3 linked regions of the Homo sapiens genome follow. The protein of the gene in region 2 purifies or fractionates together with the protein of the main gene of each other region. This does not show direct contact. Each region holds a gene or a part of one and is shown on either strand. Other genes may lie near its edges.

The links.
Region 1: the proteins of MAB21L2 (region 2) and MEIS2 purify together in Homo sapiens (affinity purification with mass spectrometry; 4 studies listed by BioGRID and IntAct, with this or other methods). This does not show direct contact.
Region 3: the proteins of MAB21L2 (region 2) and PBX1 purify together in Homo sapiens (affinity purification with mass spectrometry; 3 studies listed by BioGRID and IntAct, with this or other methods). This does not show direct contact.

What each region holds. Positions count from the first base shown.
Region 1 is NC_000015.10:37,097,528-37,105,555, reverse strand, and holds the start of MEIS2 (homeobox protein Meis2), read left to right. Parts: upstream 1-5,006; 5' UTR 5,007-6,089; coding exon 6,090-6,101; intron 6,102-6,126; exon of another isoform or gene 6,127-6,308; intron 6,309-6,449; exon of another isoform or gene 6,450-6,655; intron 6,656-6,859; exon of another isoform or gene 6,860-7,356; coding exon 7,357-7,589; intron 7,590-8,028. UniProt on the Homo sapiens protein: Involved in transcriptional regulation. Binds to HOX or PBX proteins to form dimers, or to a DNA-bound dimer of PBX and HOX proteins and thought to have a role in stabilization of the homeoprotein-DNA complex.
Region 2 is NC_000004.12:150,577,202-150,585,177, reverse strand, and holds MAB21L2 (protein mab-21-like 2), read right to left. Parts: upstream 3,028-7,976; 5' UTR 2,149-3,027; coding exon 1,069-2,148; 3' UTR 485-1,068; downstream 1-484. UniProt on the Homo sapiens protein: Required for several aspects of embryonic development including normal development of the eye.
Region 3 is NC_000001.11:164,562,178-164,569,205, forward strand, and holds part of PBX1 (pre-B-cell leukemia transcription factor 1), read left to right. Parts: intron 1-1,060; coding exon 1,061-1,134; intron 1,135-7,028. UniProt on the Homo sapiens protein: Transcription factor which binds the DNA sequence 5'-TGATTGAT-3' as part of a heterodimer with HOX proteins such as HOXA1, HOXA5, HOXB7 and HOXB8. Binds to the DNA sequence 5'-TGATTGAC-3' in complex with a nuclear factor which is not a class I HOX protein.

The DNA.
Region 1 (8,028 bases), on a different chromosome or scaffold from region 2:
AAAATCAGTAAAGAGAACTTCCCTCCCGGAATAAAAATTAACCTTACAGAGTTTTTAAAGATATGCTTAATCCAAAATATTCCAAATCAAAACATTAAATAAAGTTACAGATAAGATTAAGGTTGGACTTATTTGCTTCTCTAGCAAGGCGTCAATTGTTCTAACTGTTGTAAGAAGACAAAAAGGATTTAAACCTGGCGATTTTAATACACAGATTAACACTTTGGACTTCTCAGTTCTGAGGAATTTGAAGTTATCTGTGCTAAGAAGCTATAACTTTCAAGGAAAAGAAAAAGAAACAGCTACACAAGCTCCTTAAGGAGTGTGGGCAAATTCACCTAGAGTCTGGGTTCATAAATTCTTGGTTCAAATTAAACACTCCCCATAAAGCCAATGCCCTTCAAATTAAGGGACTATAGTGGAATTCAATTATTCCTTTTAAATCTTAAATGTTACCTATAATAGCATTCCATGTTGGCTCAAAAAAAGAAAATGAAAAATAGAAAAGTAGCAGTTTTCAGAACTCTTGGGGCTGCTTCAATAAGAAAGAGGTGATTAAAAACAGACTCTTAAATTTGAGAGGCCCGATTCCCCCTTCCACTGGTCCCCACCCGCTTGGTCCCCTCCTTTTCACCTCTTTTTTATGCAGTACCCCCACCCCCACTCCAGAGCTAAGTAGCTGATTTGGGATTCTGAAGAAATAGGTTTCACCATCCATATTTGTTCTGGGGCACTTGTAAAATGCGATTTGTAGAGGGTCTTTAGCCTTCTGATTGTCTTTGAATTGTTTTTACTGAAACAGATCTTTTGCAGTTAATGAGTCCCCACGCAGCTGGACAGCTCCTCTCGGACACTGAGAACTCTAACCCCAAAATGACCCCAATTTGACACCGCAAGATGAAATTTTACCGCCTGTTAAAACCATTTCCAGCCTGGGCAGAAGGAGCTGACTGTTGACGGAGGTGTGTGCCACCTCCTGCGACCCCCATTTCGTGCCTGTCTCCCGGGCCTGCCCCACCTACTTTCCTTTCACCCCAAATATGGGAGAGCAGATGAGCCTGGAAGCCTGGGTGGGAGTGCCAACGCTGACAATGGGGCATTAGCAAAATGCCACCAGGATGGAAATCAGTAAGTGCGGGTACCCTACTCCTTTGGAATCGCTTCTATTGGACTGGAAAATTGGGGATGAGGGAAACCAGGAAATTCTTATATGTTAGATGAGCCTTTTTCAGCTCTATTAATAAAACACCCGCAAGTTGCTGATTAAAGGTAATAGTGTTTTGAATTCAGCAGACTGACCAAGAACCAATACCTTGAATCGACTCCAACTTGATCTCCTCATGTGTAATCCACTACACTAGGACTGCTATTTTAAACTAACAGTTTCATAAGTGACATGCAACTAGATCAGTAAGATCTCTTTCGTTCAAAGAAATTCTGGGTTCTCCCCTGAGACAACTGGCAAATTTTAAAAAGACATAGATTTCCTCCAGTAGGAATGCACTTTCAACACTCTCACACTTTTTTAACTAAAAGTCGTTGAAGTTAAATATGACTTTTTGACAATATCTTAAAATGTCATATTTCTCTCTCCCTCCTACACCTAACCATATTGTTCCTGTTGTTTGCTTTAATGTATTCAATAAAATGCAAAAGAAGTTAAGAATATGAAAGAGAGAGACAGAGAAAGGCGTTAAGGTTAAAAATGCCTTCTGCATCTGATAAAAACACATGAAAATAAAGTTTAAACTTTTCTTTTTTTGTAAAACCCAAGATTATCACCAGATAATCAACTCATTATTAGCTTACAATTGTTTGAAAACATAGAAATCGGCCGGGTGCGATGGCTCACGCCTGTAATTCGAGCACTTTGAGAGGCCGCGGCGGGTGGATCAGGAGGTCAGGAGTTCGAGACCAGCCTGGCCAATATGGTGAAACCCCCGTCTCTATTAAAGACACAAAAAATTAGCCGGGCGTGGTGGCGCGCCCCTGTAATCCCAGCTACTCAAGAGGCTGAGGCAGGAGAATCGCTTGAACCCGGGAGGCGGAGGTTGCAGTGAGCCGAGATCGCGCCATTGCACTCCAGCCTGGGCGACAAAGCGAGACTCCGTCTCAAAAAAAAAGAAAAAAAAAGAAAAGAAAAGAAAAAAAGAAAAAGAAGATAAAGAAAGAAAAGAAAATATAGAAATCATCAATCTGTCTGAGTTGTTTTTACTCACACTGCAAGGGAAGGAATATTTTTCTAAAAATGCGACTTAAGTTTTTCTAAATGAAAGCTATAGAGATGCTAACTCACTTTACAGTATCACTATAAAAACAGAAAAAGAAACAGAAGGTAGCAATGTTGAATGTTTAAACCCTGCAAGGCAGAGGTTCCGCATGAAGTTGATCTTTACAAAAAAAGGTTTATCAAGGACACTGAGGAATTTCTTTTAAAAAGAAACGTAACTGGCACTTATTGAACAAGACATTTAAAACAACAATAATCCTATTGGCGACGATAAACTTAAATTCTTAAATTGAATTTAAGAATAATTAGAAGAGTAAAAACTGAGTACAAATTTCTCAGCCAGCGGCGCTGCACCGGGAACTTGGACCCACCAACATCAACAGCTTTGCAAAGTCGAAAACGCTCCGCAGCGTTTTTGTTTTTTTCCCCTCCCCACCCCGCCGCACTCTCAAACCTCCCGGTCCCGGCTAAACTGAATTCGCGTAACTGTCGATTGAAATAAAATTCTGGAGACCAACTTTTTCTTTTCTCTTTCATCTTCTTTTCTTTTTTACTCACCTTCTCTTAAATGTCGACGAGCAACTCAGCAACAAATAAGGATACTTTTAATCTTGGAGTTCTTCTAGGAAAAAAAAGAGGACGTGGAGGAAGTACCCTCCCCCCAACCTTCAGATTTCCTACCCGTCGGCTCTAGCAGGCTTGAAGCCCGGCAAAAAAGAGTGGCTGAAAACCTGGGCTACACTCTCCTCCCTGAAGCTCCGTGAGTCTGGCCGTCCCTGCTCGGGCCATTGGGCAGAAACCTCGCGGCCCGCAGCCCCTCTCCCTGGCGTCGCGCTATCCGCGCCTCTGCCAGCCCCTTCGCACTATCTTTCTTTATATGTGAGGGCCGATTTCCCGCAGACATCATTGTTATGATGGCTCATTTAATCAAACTGTTTAATTGCTCTGGTAATCACTATCATCATCACAGGTGCTCAATCATTCATCATTTTTGGAGGGCTTTATTGACCTCCGGAGTTCATTCCTCAGCCCTATTAAAACGAGGCCAAATTTCTCCGACTCCGCTTGGAGTCTCTGCAGGCTGCAATCTTAGCCTAGTTTCTGTTGCTCGAAAGCTTACAGTGAAGCAGGGAACATGGAACGGGGGCCAAAAAAAAGAGCCCTCCCACCCGCCCTCCTCCCCGCTCTCTCTCGCTCTCTCTCTCTCTCTCTCACACACAACACACACACAGAGTACTTTATTCTCTCTAATCAACCTCCCCCATCCCACCCTCCCTCCGCGGGAAAGTCGGTTAGACGCGGCTCGCGGAAGACACTACTCTCCACTTCTCAGAATGGGTTCAAAGTTGGGGAGGGATGCGGCTGTTGGAGAACAACAGTCCGCTTTCCACTCTCTGGGCCAGGGACTGGGAGGGCGAGAGCGAGAAGTTGGGGAGAGGACGCGCTTCCAGCGCCTGTCCGCCCGGCCGCGCCACAAGGGGCCGAGGGGCATGGGGGCTGCTGGGCGGCAAGGCTTGCGCGGGGTGACCGTGGCTCCGCCCCCAACTCCGGGCTCGTAGTGATTGACGCGCGGCCGCCGGGAAACCAGCCGCGCAGAGGTGAAGCCTGGTGCAGCTCGGGCCAGGGAGGACAGGGCACCGGCCACAACTAGTTTCCACCCAAACGGTGTGGGGTAGTTCCCTTCGTTTCCTTTTCCTTTTTGGAAAAGTTCTTTCGGAGCTGGCCCCATCTCCCTGACCCCGCGAAATCGCCCCTGTGTAATTAACACAGCCATTAGCAGGCGTTACCGCGGCCCGCCGCTGCGCCTCGGGCGACCACAACAAAGCTGGGCTGTGAGCGCCGGCCACTCCTCCTCGCCCGGCAACTTCTTTCTCCCCCACTCTCTCCGTCTTTTCCTCCTGTGCTTCCCAGCTCTGAGTGAGATCCACTTTGGAGACGCACACTAGTCGCGCGCGCGCACGGGCGCGCGGGCGCGCGCGCGCACACACACACACACACACACACACACACACACACACACACGCCTTTGGCTACATCGGACCCAGATGACTGCCTCCTCACTTCCTCCCTCCCGATTCCGCCGCGGCCCCCAAAGACTCTCGGGGTGGCCCCTTGTCCGCACCGCTTGGAGGGAGTGTGCTCTGAGTTAAGCTGGTCTCTTCTGGTCCTGGAAAAAAATGAGTATTGACAAGGTTGCTGGATCTGCGCAGAAAAGAAAGTGCCACTTAATAAAAAATTTAGCCCGGCAGTGGTACCGTCTGCAGAGCTTGCTGCCCTTGGACGTTAGCAGGAAGCCTTCGGGGTGCTGTAATCGGCGGGCAGAGGAGAGGGAGGCCGCGGAATTAAAAGGAACAAAAGCTAGAGCGCCATGCCAAACGTCCCCGGCAAGACCCAGTTAGGCAGGAGCCGGGAGTGATGGGAAAATGAACTAGAAGTAAGTTTTTTTTTTTTTTTAAATGAAAAGATCTGAGGCGGTACCGTACTTTCCCTGTGGTTTTCTGCAGTTTTCCTCTCTGCGCTCTCCCTGTCCTCTTCTCTCTCCCCCTCTCCCTCTCTCCCTGTTCGCGCGCGCGCGCGCGCAACACACACGCGCGCACGCACACACATACACACACACTCACACACACAGACACACTCTCCTTTTCCTCCCCCCCGCCGTCCCCCATCCCCGTGGAGGAGCAGGCTTGCTGATTTGCTCGGGTCCGCCCGGCTCGAGCCTCCCCTCCCCCTCCCGCCCCCCCGCCTCCCCCACCCCCCCAGCCGGGGCTGTCCGATCGCACTCGTTGCATATCAGAGGCTCGGCGCGGCGCGCTCCTCCTCGCTCCCGCTCCCCACTCCCGGGATGTGTCTCCGCCGTACGACGGGCTATGGCCACCACGACTTCCGGGTTCCGTCATTTCGTTCTCCCGCCGCCGACCCGCGCCGCCAAACTGAGGCTCTTCAATAAGCCAGGCAGCAGCCAACCTGCCAACACCTACTGACACTCACTCATCTCCCAGAGAGAGAAAGAGAGCGAGAGAGAGCGAGCGCGAGAGAGCGAGCGCGAGTGAGAGCGAGCGAGCGAGCGAGAAAGAGAGAGAGGGAGAGACAAAATACCTACCAGGAAAGGGGGGGAGGAAGTCCAATTTTTGCAAACTATTCATTTTTTTTTCTTGATTTTTCTCACTGCTTTCTTTGAACAATACTTTAAAGAGAGAGGATCGTATTATAGATACCGCGGGGGCAAAGCTAAAAAAGGGGGGAGGGGGGAGGAAAAAATTCAAGAAGCAGAAACCCCTCGCGGAGTTTTACTGGAAGAAAAAAACGGGTCTGAAAGATTCCTCCTCTTCATCATCATCAACCATCATTCATTCACTACCTTGACATTCCGGGCTTTGATTGACAGCTGGAGTGGCAAAAAGCCATGAAACACGACAGTTCGGTTACATGTGGGCTGCTGACGGGCCGCTCGTAACCTTCAGTTCGGGGGCTTGACAATTTTTTTCTTCTTTTTCTTCTTTTTCTTTTCTTTCTTTTTTTTTCCAACTGAGGGGAAGAGAAGAGAAAGAGGGGGAAAGGAGGACCGAAGAGGAGGAGGAGGGGAGGGGGGAGGAGGAGGAGGTGGAGGAGGAGGAGGAAGATCAGGAGGAGGAGGAAGAAGAGGAAAAAAGAGAAAAAGAAGAAATATCACAGAAAAAAAAATTCTTCGTTGTCTAGACTGGGCTTTTTTTCCCCCCTAAAAAATAGCATATTGGAGAATTGGGAGAAGTCTCTTTGGTTTGGAAAAAAAAAAAAGGAATCTTCAGCCTAGATCACTTTCTTATCCGGACTGGGATATTAAATATACGACACATCCAGGAGTTTATTGGAGCGCAGACTGATGGCGCAAAGGGTAGGTTTAAATCTCCAACACTTACCTAGATATAAATCCTCTCCTAAGAGGGGCCTGTCCCGATGCCTCCTCTCCCTTCAACGCTTCTGCTGCTGCTCGCTGCTTGATGATGGCGGCCAGTATTTTAAAAAATAGCAAAATTATTCATCGGCTTCTTTCCCTCCCGTGCCTCTGCGTGTGTGCGAGTGTGTGTGCGTGCGTGTGTGCGTGTCTGGGCGCGCGTGTTCCAGCGCTGTGCGAGCGGGCGGGCGGCGAGTGCGTGTGAGTGGTGTGTGTGTGTGCGTGTGCAATCGTTACACGCTTTCGCCTCGCTCCAGCTTTTACCCCAGCAGCGCGATTCCCCCGGTTCTCCTGCTGCCGCTGCTGCGCCGCTGCCGCCGTGGCTCGCGCGGCTCGGGGCGGGCACGGGCTGCGTAGGAGCCGCCGCCGGGGCCGCCGCTGGGGCCGCGCTGCCGCAGCCGCTGCGCCGCCGCCTAGACTACTAGCCTGGGCTGCTTGTTTTGTCTCTGAAATTGACAAGGACGCAGGGAATCCGCTGCTAAATAATGTTTCTGGTAACTTTCACGTTATTCGCCCCCCCACCCTCCGCTCCCTGCCCCCGGGGAGGCACTGGCCCTAGTCTTTCCTAGTCCTCGGCGTTCTCGTGCTGATTATTAGCGTTTTTCTTCTCTTTATTTTGTTTCATTTCGCCTTTTGATTTATTGGATCCTCAGAGGAGGCGAAGGGGGGTTAGGGGTGGGATCCGGGGCTTCCTCCTCACACTAACTCCACTTCTCCCTCCGTTGGCTCGCTACGGTTCTGTTGCCTCCGGCGGGAGCGGGGCCTCCCGGCGCCCCCTCAAATCCCCGGCCTCGCCGCCTCCTCTTCCTTCTCTAAACGTTGCTCTTGGTTCATGCTTTTTCATTTTTAAATTTAATAACATTTTTTCCTCACAACTTTTAACTCCGTTGTTTTGGCTGGTTTGGTTTCTGTGTGCTCAACTTGTGCTCGGTACTTTTCTCCTTTCTGACTTTGTTTTTATTTTTATTTTCTCTCTCTCTCTCTCTCTCTCTCTCTCTCTCTCTCTCTCTCTCTCCCCCTCTCCTCCTTTTCCTCCTCCTCCTCTCTTCTCTCTTACCTCCCTCCCTCTCTCTCATCTTTATCCCTTCCTCTCTTTTCTGTTCGCCCTCTTCTCCCTGCTCTTTTTCCCTTTCCACCCCCCTCCTCTGTTCTCCCTCACCTCCTGCGCCCCCTCCCCCTTCCCGGGTTCTGACAGTACGATGAGCTGCCCCATTACGGCGGGATGGACGGAGTAGGGGTTCCCGCTTCCATGTACGGAGACCCTCACGCGCCGCGGCCGATCCCCCCGGTTCACCACCTGAACCACGGGCCGCCGCTCCACGCCACACAGCACTACGGCGCGCACGCCCCGCACCCCAATGTCATGCCGGCCAGTATGGGATCCGCTGTCAACGACGCCTTGAAGCGGGACAAGGACGCGATCTATGGGTAAACTGACCCCCCGGACCCAGCTTACTGTGTGTGAGTGTGAGAGTGTGTGTTTGTCTCTGTGGGGGTGGGAAGGTGGACGACTAAGTGGGGAGTTACTTCTGTATGGTGGGGGGCGGGCGCCGCTTGCCTTAGGAAGGGACCGTGGAGGGGGCCTGCTCTTCTGCCCCTGGAGTCAAAGCCCCGAAGAACTAGCCTCTTTCGCTCTCACAGCCCGACCACTCCAGACCCCACAGCCTGGAGTGACTGAGTCCCCAGAATCTTGCCGGGGCCTTCTCCCCGAGGACAGGATTCCTGGCCAAAGGACGCAGGACTGCTCGTTTCAGGCTCCCTAACAGAGGCCTTGACGAAGGAGAAAGTTTCCTGCCGATGAGAAGCAACTTTGGGTTTTTTTATTTTTTACTTTTTTTTCTTCTGTTTCCTACTGAGGGTCTGGGAG
Region 2 (7,976 bases):
TCACTCAAAGCTTGAAGAGGACAAACGGTTGAAGGAAAAGTATCAACTGACTTTGTTAACTATTCAGAAAAATCCATAAATATTTCCTTTGTATATCGGATTCAGATTGGATTTTTTGAAATTATGGCATAAGAAAGCACATCTCTTAATTTTTAATGTGAAAAAGTTTTTTCTATTTTAAAAATTAGGATCAAAATATTTTCTTTCATACTTTTTTCCCAAGCGTGAAGTAGATGTTACTTTTAATCTTAACATCTACAGAACAAATATATATTATAGTTGAGTAAAATTAGTGTTTTCTATTTTCTAAGGATTTGGGTCGGAACTTATACAGTCAATTCTACAAAATGTACTGTATTTAAAATTTTGCAAATCAGTTCAAGTGGAAGCTTCTTGCATTTGATTCCTCGTCACATCTTTACATTGGAAATTATAAACTGTGATCTCACCTGCCTTCACTTAAGAACAATCCACAAACAGTCAATTACAATGTAAAGTAATGTTTTTATTACTGTTTTCAACAAGACAGCTCAGGGTGAGGGTAGAGGTTCAGGAGAGGGAGGAGCACAGTCTGACATTGGCACTGAGAACGTTTAACATCAGTAAAACTTTTTTTTAAAAGAGAAATTTTACATATAGTTAAATAATTTTTTCACTTGGTGACAACATTCAGGCAACCAAAAGCAAAACGAAATGGGGGGGGGGATGGGGTGGAGAGAAAAAGGATAGGGGGAAAGAAGGAAAAGGGGGGGGAACTACTATACATTGATTTGAAAATGTACCTTGGGTTTCATTTTGTGGTGGCGGAGCCCGATTGCTTCTTTTGTGTGACCTTTTAAATTCACATTGTTTGGAAGAAAACGATCACTTTTGTGCAAGAATGTGATTTGTTTTGGTTGGGTTGCTCTCTTTTTGTTTGCTTCTTAATTAATGAAGGTCTTCTGCCGGATTCCTATTTCAGGTGACTTACATAAAAGTTTGTGTCCAGAGTTTCTGCTGTTTATAGCAGAGTTGTGTGTCTGAGAGAGCACGCCCGTTTGTGTCGCTTTTCAAGCAGTCCCCAGCACCCTATAGTTTGTCCAGGCTTTTGGGATTGGTGAGAATTTCCCTGGCCAACCTCCAGGTCTGCTTGGCAGCGCTCTCCAGGGCCGAATGGGGCTTGCCCTGAAAGAGGTCGAGGTTGGGCAGAAAGTAGTGAGGGCAGCGGCGGCACTGCAGGCAGGAGATGAGCTGCAGCAGGATGCCGTTGAGCCGGTCGCCCAGGCACGACTCGTCCCAGTCCGTTTCTCGTGGGTGTTTCTCGCACTCGTACAGCAGCAGCGTCTTCATGTGGTAGTTGTTGAGCGGCTGGCCGGGTAGCTCCAGGTGGCGGTCCCGCAGAGTCTTCAGCACTGAGAGGCACTTGTTTCGGCAGCCGCCCATCAGCAGGCGGTTCTCCGCCTCCCCGAACTGTAGCACCCAGGCGTCGCTCTCTGCCGAGCTCTGCTTGCCGGTCAGCGAGTAGCACTCCTTCGAGAGCAAGTTGAACCCTTCGGCCTTGACCTCGGCCACCCGATTGGGGCCGGGCCAAGGGATGTGGGGCATAGGCCACTGTGCCGCGCTGCGAGGCCAGATCCCGGTGCACTTGAACGCCGGAGTGATTTGCACCACATAGCGCTCCCTGATGCGCAACTTGACCTCGCTGGTGTCCGCGATCATCTTGACCACATCCCGATAGCTGCACTTGTCCACCGCCTGGGCCACCAGCGTCTGGAAACGCGAGCGGATCTTACGCGCTGAGAGATAGCCCGACGCCGTGATGAACTCGACCCAGAGAGACATGCTCCGCTTCCGCCCATCGCTCAGTTTGAGCACTGCGCAGCCGGGCAGCGAGCCGTCGTCCACGAAGTTGAAGACGCCCATCTGGTTTAGGTAGAGCACCACCTCAAATTCGGTGGGCGAAATGACCTCGAGCCCCTCGTAGCGGGCATCGATCTCGCTCAAGGAGCTGATGAAGCGAGGCTCCTGCACCTCCACTTCCTTGAGCACGTCCGAGACCACCTTACAGACCTCTCGGATGGTTTTGGCGATGGCCGCCTTGCGCGCCTGACAGCGCTCAGTGTAGTACTTATTGAGCTGGTAAACCAGCTTGGCCTGAGCGGCGATCATGTTGGGGCACAGGTCCGGGCTATACACCGGCGTCTCGCAATACGTTGAGGGATCCAAGGCTCACGCACTGGTGGTGGCCCAGCGGCTTTCGAAAGAGGCGGTGCGCTCCCCGTTAAGCCCTACTTTCACTCTCGTTTTCCACCTGGGCTGACCGGCTGATACCGTAGCCGGCTTGTTTTTTCCTTTTCCCTCTTTCGAAACCTCTTTTCTTCTGCAGAAGAATTAGGGGAGAAAAGGTGATTTTCTAAAAAGAAAAGTACCTCTTGGAACCTTTTTGCTTTCTCTTGATATGTAAAGATGACCGTGTGCGAGAGAAGCGGGGTGGGCGTGAGGAAGGAGAAGGAGAGGGAAAAAACTCAGGATACCAAAAGGTTAGGCTTAGATGTCTGCAGCCGAGATTGTCCAGAAATCTGGAAATGAGGTTTTTTAAGTGCCAAAGTAAATTTAAAAATAAAAGCGAAACATTCAGTGGTTCATTCTTAAACTTCTCTTCCACGCTGATAGGACTTCTTCGCTCAGTGTAGGTGAGTGCCTTCTTCCTCACCCTCCCCCAAATGGAAGGTGCAGGAGGTAATTAATGTCCAGAGAGCTGCGAAGTACAACTCAGTCCGCCGTGCACTTGGAGGTTTGCTGACGCCCCACAGTCTCAGCGTGTTGGTCTCGTCTCTTCTCGGGGGGTCGTGTTATCGCAGTTTTCCTCTTTTCCTACTGGAGGCGTTGTTTGGACTGGGTTTGTTTGTTTGTAGTGGGTTCTCCTTGTGTTTCTTTAGGTGCAAACCGCTGGAAGTTGTTTGATAATCATTTCTGCTTCGTAATTTATACTTTTGGCCCTCACAAAATCCGTTTTAGTGTGACGAAGTCGTTGCTTGCGTTGCATCTGGGGTGTAGTTATAACGATTCAGGGTTTTCCTTCTTCTCCTCTAGCTTGCTTTTACAGATTCCACTTTCTGAGTCGTCTCTCCCCCTCCTCTCCCCTCCGACCTCTTTCTCGCCCCGCTCTCCCCCTGCTTCTCTCCCCCGCCCCCCTTCCTCGTGCTCGCTCTCTCTTCTTTCCTCTAACTCTCTCTGTCTCTCTCTCTCCCTCTCTCTTTCTTTCTCTCTCTCCCTCGCTGTTTCCTGGAGTTATTTAGTTTATGAATGGTCCCAGGGCCATCATGAGGGGGTGGAGCTTCAGTTCCTACAATCGCTATCCGAGCTGTCAGTGCTTTAGCCAATCCGAGAGAGAAGACAGGCACGCTTGGCGAACGGTAGCAGCCACCACTGCACTTGATAAAGAAACAGGGTAAAGAGAGAAGTAAGAAAATAGGAGGAGATAATGGGAGTCAAATGCTTGCACACATTTTACAGCCGTTCCTCTTTATCCTCCTCTCTTATCAGTAGCAAAGAAGAAAAAGAGTTTATATAGAAGGGACTCTCCTGGAGATGGCTGGAATAACGCGAGGGAGAGTAGCAATGGTTCAGAAAGGTTCACTTTTTTTTTTTTTAAATGATTCTATCAACATTGTGTAGTAGAAGGTGCAAACTGTAACAAAATTACTTTGGCTTGAAGGCAAATGGGAAGCGAAAGGGGAATCTGGGAAAGGACCTAATTTTTCCAGGTTTTTTCCTCCTTTAAAGTCATCCTCCTTTCTCTTCCCCTCCCCTCCCATTGTTGCCAAGAATCAGAGCAGTTGCTGTATATGTGCACCAGTGAGGGTTGGAGTGGATATAAGGTGAGGGTTTATAAATCTCTTTTTAGTAATTTCGATATGCTGTTTAAAAACAGGGCAGGGCAAAAACTAGTCCAAGCACCTTGTTTGATAATTATTTCATAATTAAGATTCACATGTATTTAATACCATTATTTTATCGTTACAAGAATTAACTAGTTACGAGAGAGAAAATATCTAAGTTGTGAGAAATGGTGCAAACTTACATGTCGTAGAACTTAGTAGGATATACTTTTAAAATAAGCTACTAAAATTGCTTCAAACTTAATGAAAAACAAGGCAAGTAAATGTAAACCTAAAGTTTTCTTAAAATCTTACTGTTGTAAATCTAATTGTGAATGTATTCTTAGGGGGTACAGGTACAGAGTTTCATTTGTAAAATGATTTTATTTTCATAATTGACTCTTGCTTTTAAAAGACTTCACTGCCACAAAAATCTATAACTATCCTGTTATTGATTACACAGATGGCTTCACTCCTCCCTAGGCATTTCAATGAAAGGCATGCATGTGCTTTTAGTATATGTATTATCCTAAACGAGTTGTACCCACTGTAGCCTTTCCATACTTTTGGGTGAAAAAAAAAGCTAGAACATTGTTTCTGATTTGCTTGATACTGAGGGTTTATGTATGAACCTAAGATGTCTGGATTCTGAATCTTTTTAACGTATTTCAGGTAGATGTGATTATTTTTAGTTTGATTTGGGAGGTTATATTCCAGCCCTGGGTTATGCGATAAAAATAAAAATCTATGCGTCCATTTGGGTGAAGACTTCGTTTTAGAAACCTGGTAGTTCGGCTTTTTCAAAACCCCTTGGGAGGGCTTGACTTACCCTCTTAAAGTCCGGCCGGGTGAACCTGAATTGAATTGCATAGGGAAGTTAATTTCTTTCTATCTACTTGGTATCAGACAATTGGGCCTCTTGGTTCTTTCTTACATACCTGGTGCGGACCACAGGCAGTTTGTCACCCTTCCTCTCTCGTTGCCATAAGTCCCTTTCTAAGGAATATTTGCTTAAAAAAAAACTATCTCGGATTTGTTGCTTAGGGTTTGTCTTCCCGCGATTAGGAAGAAGAGTCAGAATTAAGTGTCCGCGCGACTCTTGGACTCCAGAGCTTTAGTTAACTTCTCTGGAGTGGCAGAGACTTGGGCTGCTTGACCTCCAGCCTTCTCCGGGGAGGCCGCGTGCGTCCCGGAACGCCTCGCCGCCTAAGGATCTAGGGGACCTCGCGCCCTCGGAGTTCGCGCCTGTGGGAGCCCGGCTCTAACCCGGGAGGCCTTGCCGGCGCTCTGGGAACTGCCTGGGCCGGAGGGCACTGCGCTGCCGGGAGAGCGCGACTGGCCGGGAGGGGCTCCGTGGTTGCTTCTCCGGGGGCAGTTACTGGGCGGAGACTGGTGGCGGGGATAGAGGGTGCGGAGCTTTCCCGCCCCACTCTCGAGGTGGTCGCTTCGTCGTTGCGTCTGGTTCGCGAATGGCCCGGCCCGCGACGCTCCCGAGAGTGAGTGTTTGCAAACAGCCTCAGGGGTGGCGGAGTTGGTTCGCATGGCTCCGCCGCCGCGCCGCAAGTCCTGCGCCTTCTCCTCTTCTCTCGGGTGGGGCGTCCCAGGCCGAGCGGACCTTCGCGCCACCACTCGCCGGACACTCCGCTGCACCTCCACTGGCGGCTCTGTCAAGCTCGGCTAAGTTTTCTCGCATCCTTGCCCCTACGCTTCTCCACTTTTACATACAGAGGGAAGGATGATAAAACGTTACAAATGTTTTGATTTAAAAACAATTCATTACCAATTTACCCTGTCTTAGGTAGATGCTCTAGTAAATAATAAATCAGTTAAACAAAGGCGACTTTAATTTATGGCCGTGGTACTAATTAGAAACATCATTCGAGCAATAAACTTAAACACTTCCAGCAAATAATGCTCCCTCTTGCTGGTTCTCTTTCTCCCCCCTCCCCCACCCCAACTCACTCTGGCTGCCTCTGCTCTAAGAGCAGCTTCAGCTGCGCCTTTGCGGTCCTCTCTTCCTCTGGTTGAATAATTGAAGGGGGAAACGGTATCCGAGGAGGCTGTAATTGAAGAGCCCCTGTCACCTCTGCTTTTATGTATGTTAGTATAGAAGTCCATCAGCAGCTCCTTGATGGTGTATTAAAACGAACTGGCAGCTCCTTCTGCAGGAGATACTATATTCTATTAAAGGAGACCAAGTGAGAGAAAGAAACTCTAGAGGCTAAAAGCCACTTCAAGTCTTCAGACCGATTCATCTGTATTCTCTTGTTATAATCCGTCTCATCATACTTGAGTTAATGAGGCAAAGGAGGGGGTGCGAAATCTGATGGTCCTTGACAAATTCATTAGGGAGGCTGCAGGACATTTTATTTGACTGTTAAACATCTTGTTTGTTTGGCTTAGGCAGTGCCAACATTGGCATGCTTCAGCCCAGAGCTGTGGTGCTGGGCTAGCTGCAGGACATTCCTAAAAAGGGAAGGAGGACATTCAGGGTGTGATCTGAATTTTTTGTTTTGGATATCAGGTAGTCCGTAACCTTCAGACTTCTCTAGGCTTTACCTCTTGCATCATTACATTAGGAACATAAAGAATGTAGGTGATAGTACTGAAGTGGGCATGTTTTTAGTTACTATAAACTAAAATATGAGGATGTTTAAAACTTTAGTCTGAAAATTTCCCAGTTTCTTCAAAAAATTGAGTCAGGTTGTAGTAATTACGGTACTAGTTTTATAGCAATGTGAATGTTTAAGGTCCAGTCAAATAACCAGATTACTCATTACATCCTATTTTTACTTATCATGGTTAAATAAACTTTTAATTATTAATGGAATTTCCTATTTCACCGAAACCTTTATGAGTACAGAAACTTGGAAATAAAAAATTAACTATTTATACAAATATATTTTCAAAAAAAATTGGCATATTTTAAGGAAATTTTTATAATTAAAATTAGAAGCAAAACTGAATACTTGGTGTTAAAATAAGGTGATGAGTTGACAGAGTACTTTAAAAAGTGAAAATATTTCTAATTGAAGAATAATGGGTAATTAAGCTAGAATGCTAACCTTACAATGTTTTATTCTAAGATAATAATACAGTATTAGATTTATCAACATGTCCTTGAAAAGTAGTAAATAATCCAATTGTGATACTTTCTTGCATAGAGAATTCAGTTGTATTTTTCCTTCAGCATTGACTGAGCTTGAGCTTAAGTGCTTTGAGAAAGAATCCTGTCTTCCATTTATAGGAAAACAGTATGGAAGTAAAAAAACCTAATGCCCTTTGCCTGTCATTTTTATACATTCCTGCACTGCTGATGAAGCTTGAACGGCTGCAGGGAATGTATGGATTTGAAAAGAAATGATGCAGTAGTTCATGTTGTGTTTCTCAGGAGCCAAACCAAACTAATGGCTGAAGTCAGTGCTTCTGTAATCTGACAGTTATAATCCTGTTTATGTTTCCAGAGAATACAAAATTCTTAAACTGTTTTATTTTTTGCTGATCTTTACTTAAAAATGTATTTACTGAGTTAACGTCAGTGCATTTGTTACTTTATCATGTTAACGAGACTTAAAAGGTATCTATTATTTTATTATCTGTAAAAATAATATATTGTATCTCAATAATCTTTACTAAAGAGTAAACAAATTTTAGAATACATGATCTTATTTTCCAGGAAATATTTTAGAAGCTTTCAAAAAATAATCAGATTATTGACTTAAGAAAAGAAAGCATTTCTGGAGGATTTATACTTTTTGGAAAACAAAGGACCACGTGTTTACTGGTATATAGTCTTATCCTCTAAATTCTAACTTTGAAACATCTATGTGGGTGCTACATTTTTAGTTCTTATATACTTAATCATTCTACATACTTATGAAAATGCTTTTTTTTTTTAAAAAAATGAACATTGATTTTTATTTTTGGTCAAATTGTAAATGAGGAAATAAAACACTATTAAGTTCTCTGAATTTAAAAATTATTTCACTAAAAACAGAAAGAAAAGTAAATAACCCAGATATGATTTGTTAGTGTATTCTAGTTGATGAAATTTTATTGAAGTAATTATATTTAAATATATGTAAGATGTGTTAATGACAGTCATCAAGATTATAC
Region 3 (7,028 bases), on a different chromosome or scaffold from region 2:
TGTACAGTACATAGGGCATGTTTCTGATCTCTGTTCTTCATGAGGATGTGTCTATTTTTTAACTTTCAAAGGGATTAAAAAAGAATTGCATGTGTTTTGAGTGCCAGAACTTTCCATTTATCTTTACACATTAATTTTAGTTAGTAGACAGAATTCACTTAACTAATAGCTGATATGATCAGTATTTTGTTTCCAAAACAGTATCATTCTGCTAAGTGGTTCCATAATAAAATAGAAGGAAAGGTATTGTTTTGTTCCTCAAGTGCATTCAGAATACACACACACACACACACACACACACACACACACACACACACCAGGTAAATCACTAATCTAAAAGACAAAATTGCATTTATTTTTCCCCCAATGGGTGCAAGGTCCTAATTGTAAATAATTGAATTTCAACACCTGCAAATAAGCAGTGTGTGCACAGAAGCATAATGTGAACACAGAGAAATGAATTTATTCCCCATATGGGTATGTTTGCCCCCTGGCAATGCATTTCCATACTCTTTAACTTGGGGACTGAAATGTTATAAATTGACAGTTCTACTCAGAAGACCTTTCAAGCATCTTGTGTTTATGAGAATACAGGGGCATCTGCGGAATGAATTCGAACACATGGATGAATTAAATTTGAAAACACACAGACCGAGAGGCAGACAGTTCCTAGGCTGTGGTCGTTGCATGGATTTTACAAAACTGTTAACCTACACCTTTGGCTTTGCTGTGTTCATTGTCCTGGGAAGAATTGTGGGTTTAAGAATTACTCTTTGATTAAACTACTTAAAAAAAAAAAAAAACCCTTTCCCTAAATGGGCATAATTTAGGTTAGTTCTGTTCTGTAGTTAAATCCCTACCCTCTCCCTGCTAATTAACATTATTTCTTTTTCTATGGCGGGACTCTGTATATTAAGTCATGAAAACAACTGAAGCATGCCACAGAGTTAGGGTTGGGTATATAATTTTGTCTAAATGTTCAAATGTTTTCACCCTGTGCATTATCGGCAGTTTGATCTTGAGAGTCCACCTAAGCTATCATGTTGTTTCTTTCTTGCAGAAAACATGCTTTAAACTGCCACAGAATGAAGCCTGCCTTGTTTAATGTGTTGTGTGAAATCAAAGAAAAAACAGGTAGGAATGAGATTCCAACATTTTAGCATTTTCTTTGGCCAATTAAATCACTTAACCAGCAGTCACAAATCTATTATTTAAATATTAAAATTTCAGAATACAAGTACTATGAAGGTTGACCTCATATTCGAATAGGAAGTCCTAGCCCTGCTTTCCTTAAAAAAAAGAATCAAGTTTCTTTGACAGTTATTATCAAGCACTACTGGTTAATTTTCCAGAACTCTATTTCCAGCCTTTTTGAGATTGGGGCTAAAATATAGATTCTGAAAGGAAATTTATAGACTGATGTATCTTTGGGGCAAAAATATGAAAGTAAAAGTTCATTTTTTTAAGGAATATATTTTGGCCCATTTTTAAAACCCTAATTTTTTTGGAGTTGGGTGTGGGGGTGCTAAACTGTTGAAAGTTTCCTTTCCTTTTTTTCTTGTAATTACACAAAGCAGCAGACTAGAGGTTCTCAACAGAGAGTGTTGTCAAATACCTTTGTGGAATGCGCTATACAACATTAGGTTATCGGTATTTGAGTGGCCTGTGATTTTATTGCAGGGAGAATCGTTGGGTTTAGGAGAGTATAACGCCATGAGATAATTCACTCTGTTGTTTTTCTACTTTCTAGACCTCGTTTCGTGGACTAACACACTTATAACACATCCCAGGAGGGCATTTAAATTTTAAAGCAACAATTAAAAAATAGCAGTCATCAATCAGAGGTGTTCTTAAACAACAGATGCTCTGGGAAGGACATTTAGCGACATCCCCTTGTTTATTTTAATCCTTAATTTTCCAAAGTGGGTAAAGCTCTCCCTTGTAAGAAGAAAGATTTGAGAAGGCAATCTGAAACCAGGGAATAAAGATGAGGGACAAGGGGTGGTTATATAAAGCGGGAGCTTCTGCTGGGCTCTGACTTACCCGCTCGCTTTAGAGCAGTGCAAAGTACCTGACATCCTATTTATTTATTTATTTTTTACAACAAGGAGTGTAACAGTCAATAATTCATATCTAAACCATATAAGCAAGGGCATGACATGAATGAAAGTGACAATAAATATGATTGCATGCTTGGTTGATATACATTGATAGTTACACATAAAAAATGGGCGGGGGGAGAGGGCACACAGGGTGGCTTTCTTTTTGAGAGCTCTCTGTGTTTTTCTTTTAAAAAAATAGTTTCAAGATGTGACTGTTGAATGAATATGTAATTACTTGGGTCTTGAAATGCGTGTAAAATTAGTACGCAGCTCCTTTGTTGAATGTTATTTGTGTTGTGCATAACATTCTAGACAAAGCACCTGAGAAGTGATGTTCAGACCTCTAAGTCTTCCAGGTTGCCTTGCCAAAGCTTAACCTTATTGCAAACCTGTTAATTGCATTATTTTAGCTGTGAGACAACTTTTAAAAGATTTATGGACTGTGCATTCAAATATCAAAAGAGTTTTTTCCAGTTTGTCACACTTTTTAGTTTCTTTTTTCTATTAGCCCAGAGTAGGAAACTTAAGTGTGTGTGTATATATATATTTATATATATTTTTTTATCTTCTCTCTTTTTTCTTCTTTGATCTCTGATGCTTATTTACTTTGAGTGTTTGGTTTGTTGAGATTTGTTTCTAACCAAGTATGAGTTCCTGCTGATCTTGTTTCATGAAATGTAGAATCAAAATATAAAAGCATATGTGATAATATGGACTAAAGAGAGTCTATTTTTGAAGATACTTTATCAGATTTTTATTGAAAGGAAGCCTGTCAGGGCACTTAAATGTACATTGTGGCCAAAGTGCTTAATTCTAGTTTCCTAATTAAAACCTACTGAGGCAGTAGATTAAAGTGGGTGGGTGTGAATAGAGATCCGGTTCAGGTGAGGGTTAAAGAGTTCGCTCCTTGTTCATGTTGGCTCAAGTATAATGATAGGAAGTAAAGTAGTCAGTCGTATTGGTCAAAGTAACATTCTAAAAGTTTTGTATTTTAAATTTTGTGTCAATACATTTAATGTTTAGAGACTTAAAAAAATCTAAATTAAGGTTTTTTGTGTTGTCTCTAGAATAACATATTTAAAAAAACAATTTACAAATAATGTAATTGAAAGTGATAAGAGTCATTGCCCCCTGTGTTAAGGGACACACACACACACACACACACACACACACAAGTCTTGGATTAAGAGGGCACCCCTGGGTGAAAGTAGGGGAAAAAAAAGGCTTACCTCCCTCTTAGTCTTCAACTTGTGTGTTGGAAGGATTGAAGGGAAGGCAAAAACCTCTCCTGGAATGTTGAGTGTTGTGTTAAAGGTAGGAGTCAACTGTGGTCTGCTGAAAAGAACCCTTTGATTCTAAAGCACGATTACTTGGCTACTCAAGACCCTGGAACCTTCAATCTTTTTGCCAGCATATCTTTCATGCAGTTGATGGGTCGGAGGAACAAAGTGTCTGTAAAGTTGCAGGAGCTTTTTTTTTTTTTTCCCCCTCTTCTTCTTGATACAGAGCTGGTGAAAACATCGCTTGAGTGATCAGTTCACATACATTCCTTTATTGTTTGGGGACTTTTTCTATTGTTACTTTCAAGCCTTTTTGCATTAAATGAGTATTTTTGAGTTTCCATCTCAAGCATTATAATGCTTATAATAATAATAGAGGTTACTTGATTTAGGGTGGGCTTTGTTTGTTTGTATTCTAACACGAAGTTCATACATTTGGCTCACCTAGGCAGAACTCTTGAGAGGAACTTGGTAATTGCATTGATTTGTTATTTTTGCTTTTTTGCATTTGTTAATGATTTTATAGTTGGAAGACTTAGAAATAGATACAAAAACTGGCTAAGATGTATTACCAACCTTTTGGAACTTTAAAAATACATACACACATGCACGTAACACCCCAAAGTAGAAGGTGCCATCTGAATTACAATTGATTGATGGGTGTTTAAGTCAGAAATTACTGTGGGGATATTTAAAAAACAAAACAAAACAAAAGAACCCATGCATCTTCTTGCTTCAGAATGTGGGTAGTTTTTATTCTGATACATTTTCGCTTTTAAAAAAATAAATGCTAAGAAGAAGTGCCAGCAAAATGCTCGGGTGGCAATTCTCAAAGAGCAGCTAAAAAACCCTGTCAAGACCTATAGCAATGTATATTTCACATGTGGCTTTTATCTGCTCGCTCATTCTAGGAATACAGAGACAATTAGAGTTTTGGATCATTTAATATAACACTTTCTTTTGGATTTTTAAGATCCATTCCTTGTCTTCTGGCATATTAGTAATAGGCTAAGTTTTGCATATGTGTATATATGGTGGTAATGGGGTTGGTGGGATAGAAGAAAAGGAGAAAAAGTCAAGCATATTACATTTCTTTAAAAAAACCTTGAATATATTTTTAAACATTTCCTGATGTTTTTTATTCCTGTGTCAAAATCACGCAAGTTTAAAAATTAGGAAAACACGAAAAATATTGAATGCCATTTACTAAGGAGAATATTTATAGATAGCAATGAATAGCTGCAATTGTTGTGAATAGTTTTTAATTTTAGAACATAATAGCTATATATGGCACTTTTCAGCCAATTTTCCTCTGTGCATTGTCTGCATCAAAGTTAACGCAAATCAAATCTTTGGAGGAGGTTAAAAAAATTTATTTTTTGCTCCTTAACACCCTTTTGTTCTCTCTCTTTCCTTTTCTCTCTGTGTTCAATTAACACCCCCATCACAGAACTGTAGTGTGTGTGTGTTTTTTTAATTCTACTACTTTATTTCACTTTTGACACCCTCCCTTATTATTCTCGCCTGCCACTTCTTTTTAATATAGCAATTACATTATGGGACTTCTCCTCTCCTCTCCCCTTTAAAGCATTAGAGAATAATTTGTGTGTCTATGTATATGTGTGTGTGTATGTTTGCATATGTAGGTGGAGGGGCGGTGGGTTATGGAAGGAAGCTAGAGATTGCGGGAAGAGAATTCTGATGGTATTAGGCCTTGAGCAAAATAGGAGTAAAATAACTTTAAACCATTTAGAAGCAGCCTCTGATCAGATTCCTTTTGGGGTTGAAGTGGTAGGAGTCATTTTTGTAGAAGGTCATCGATAGCCAGCAAATGCAAAAACTTTTCTTGCTGATGAGAAAATTCAAGAATTTGGTTCATTTTTTTTTTTTCTCCCTCCTGGTAAAGATGCAGAGGAAAGAAAAGGGGATCAAATGAAAGGAACTTACAAATCAGTTTTACCTGATGCTATCTTTCAGGTACAGTGTGTTAAGGCAGAAGTAATGTGGTTAGACCCTATATTATTTATTTATTATAATGTGGATATAAGCCGTAGACCTACAACAATATAACTCTGACAGACATAATATAAGAAGAACTTGTAATGAGAAATGACTTTTCTTTTTAGTCACTTTTGTGTATTCCATTTTTAGTCTACTACTAGAATTAGAACAATTCTGGCTTTTGAGAAGTGCAAAGAGCAATTTGGTCAAAGCTGCCAGAATGAGAATTTGGGAAATTTTGGTGTCATTTTTTTCTAACAATAGGAGTGTCTGTGAGGATTGGACATGAGAGCGATTTAGGTTATACTGAAGGATCTGGAAGGGGATTTATAAGCGGGGAAACATAGAACCTTGTGAACTAAGAGCTGTGGGGCATTGAGCTGGGCCGGGTGTGGGTGGGTTCTGTACAGTAGGCTGCACTGTTGGCTGAGAAGGGGGCATTACCTGCCTGTGTGTTTAGTTCACTGCTGGTGCCAGACCTATTCACATGGTTTTGCCCCTGCATTCTGTTGACATCCATGAACTTTTTGTTGTGGTTGTTGGCAAAATTATAAAAATACCCCCAAACGAGCAAATAAACCAAAACCTAGATGTTGCACATAATTTAAATTGGAAGACATTTTCATTTGTAAAGCATGACCCTGACTTCTTTTGTGTCATAGGCATATCTTAGGAAAGCTTATTCTTCAATTTGGTTTCAAATCTCTTTTAGATGGATGATACTATGTTTGAACTTGGTGAAGCGAATCTAAATATTCTTTTTATTGCTTTTCCTTTAAAAAAAAAGTTTACCAAAGCACCACATGATAGAGACAGTGTCCTAGGTCCAGCTCCAAACAGCTCTTATTCATTCTCTTATGACCCTAAGAAGCACCCATTCATTTTCATTGCCATATTAACCTGATTTGGAGGAATATAATAATTTTGGTTCCATTGCCCTTTACCTGCAATGGTGTGGTAAGATTTAAGGAATGCAATAATTGATAAATAAGTAGAGAATTCATGAGTTGTTTGTGAAGTGCTTTGAGTTCCTGTGGGTTATGTAAATAATTAAGGCACTGTATTTTCTATAATAAATTATCTCAGGATTCATATCTTATTTCACAGGATATCACTGCATTTCACTCTTTCAGGCTAAAAAAAATGTACGTCTACTGGTCTTTAAGTAATGGGGTAATCGATCGTCGCTCATGAGGAAAGTTCTCTGGTTGTATCTTTGCCCCATCTGCATCTCAAAGATGGCACTTCTCGGAACTTAGCAGAGTGATCCCCAGAGGGGAAAAAAGGTGCAGGAATAGATTGTCATAAGATTATAACACCTATCCCCCATGATGGCAGAATAAGGTCAATAGTGTCTTACCCGAAGGTCTTCTTACCTCTAACAGCTCTCTTTCAATCTCTCAATTATTGGTGGAAATTGAGATTGCAATGGGTGGAAAATTCATCCTTTTTGGTTTAGGTTGTAGTTTCAACTGCATCTTCTACTGAAACTTTTGTCATTAAGTAGGTATTGGGGTGGGTATACCTCACACTCTGTGCTAGTTCTGGACCTTCTACTAAGTAGTTATAAGACCATAGAAAAGTTGCTTAAATAATTTTATGATAAACTATAATAGTAGTGGTTAAGGACCTGGTCTTTAAAGCC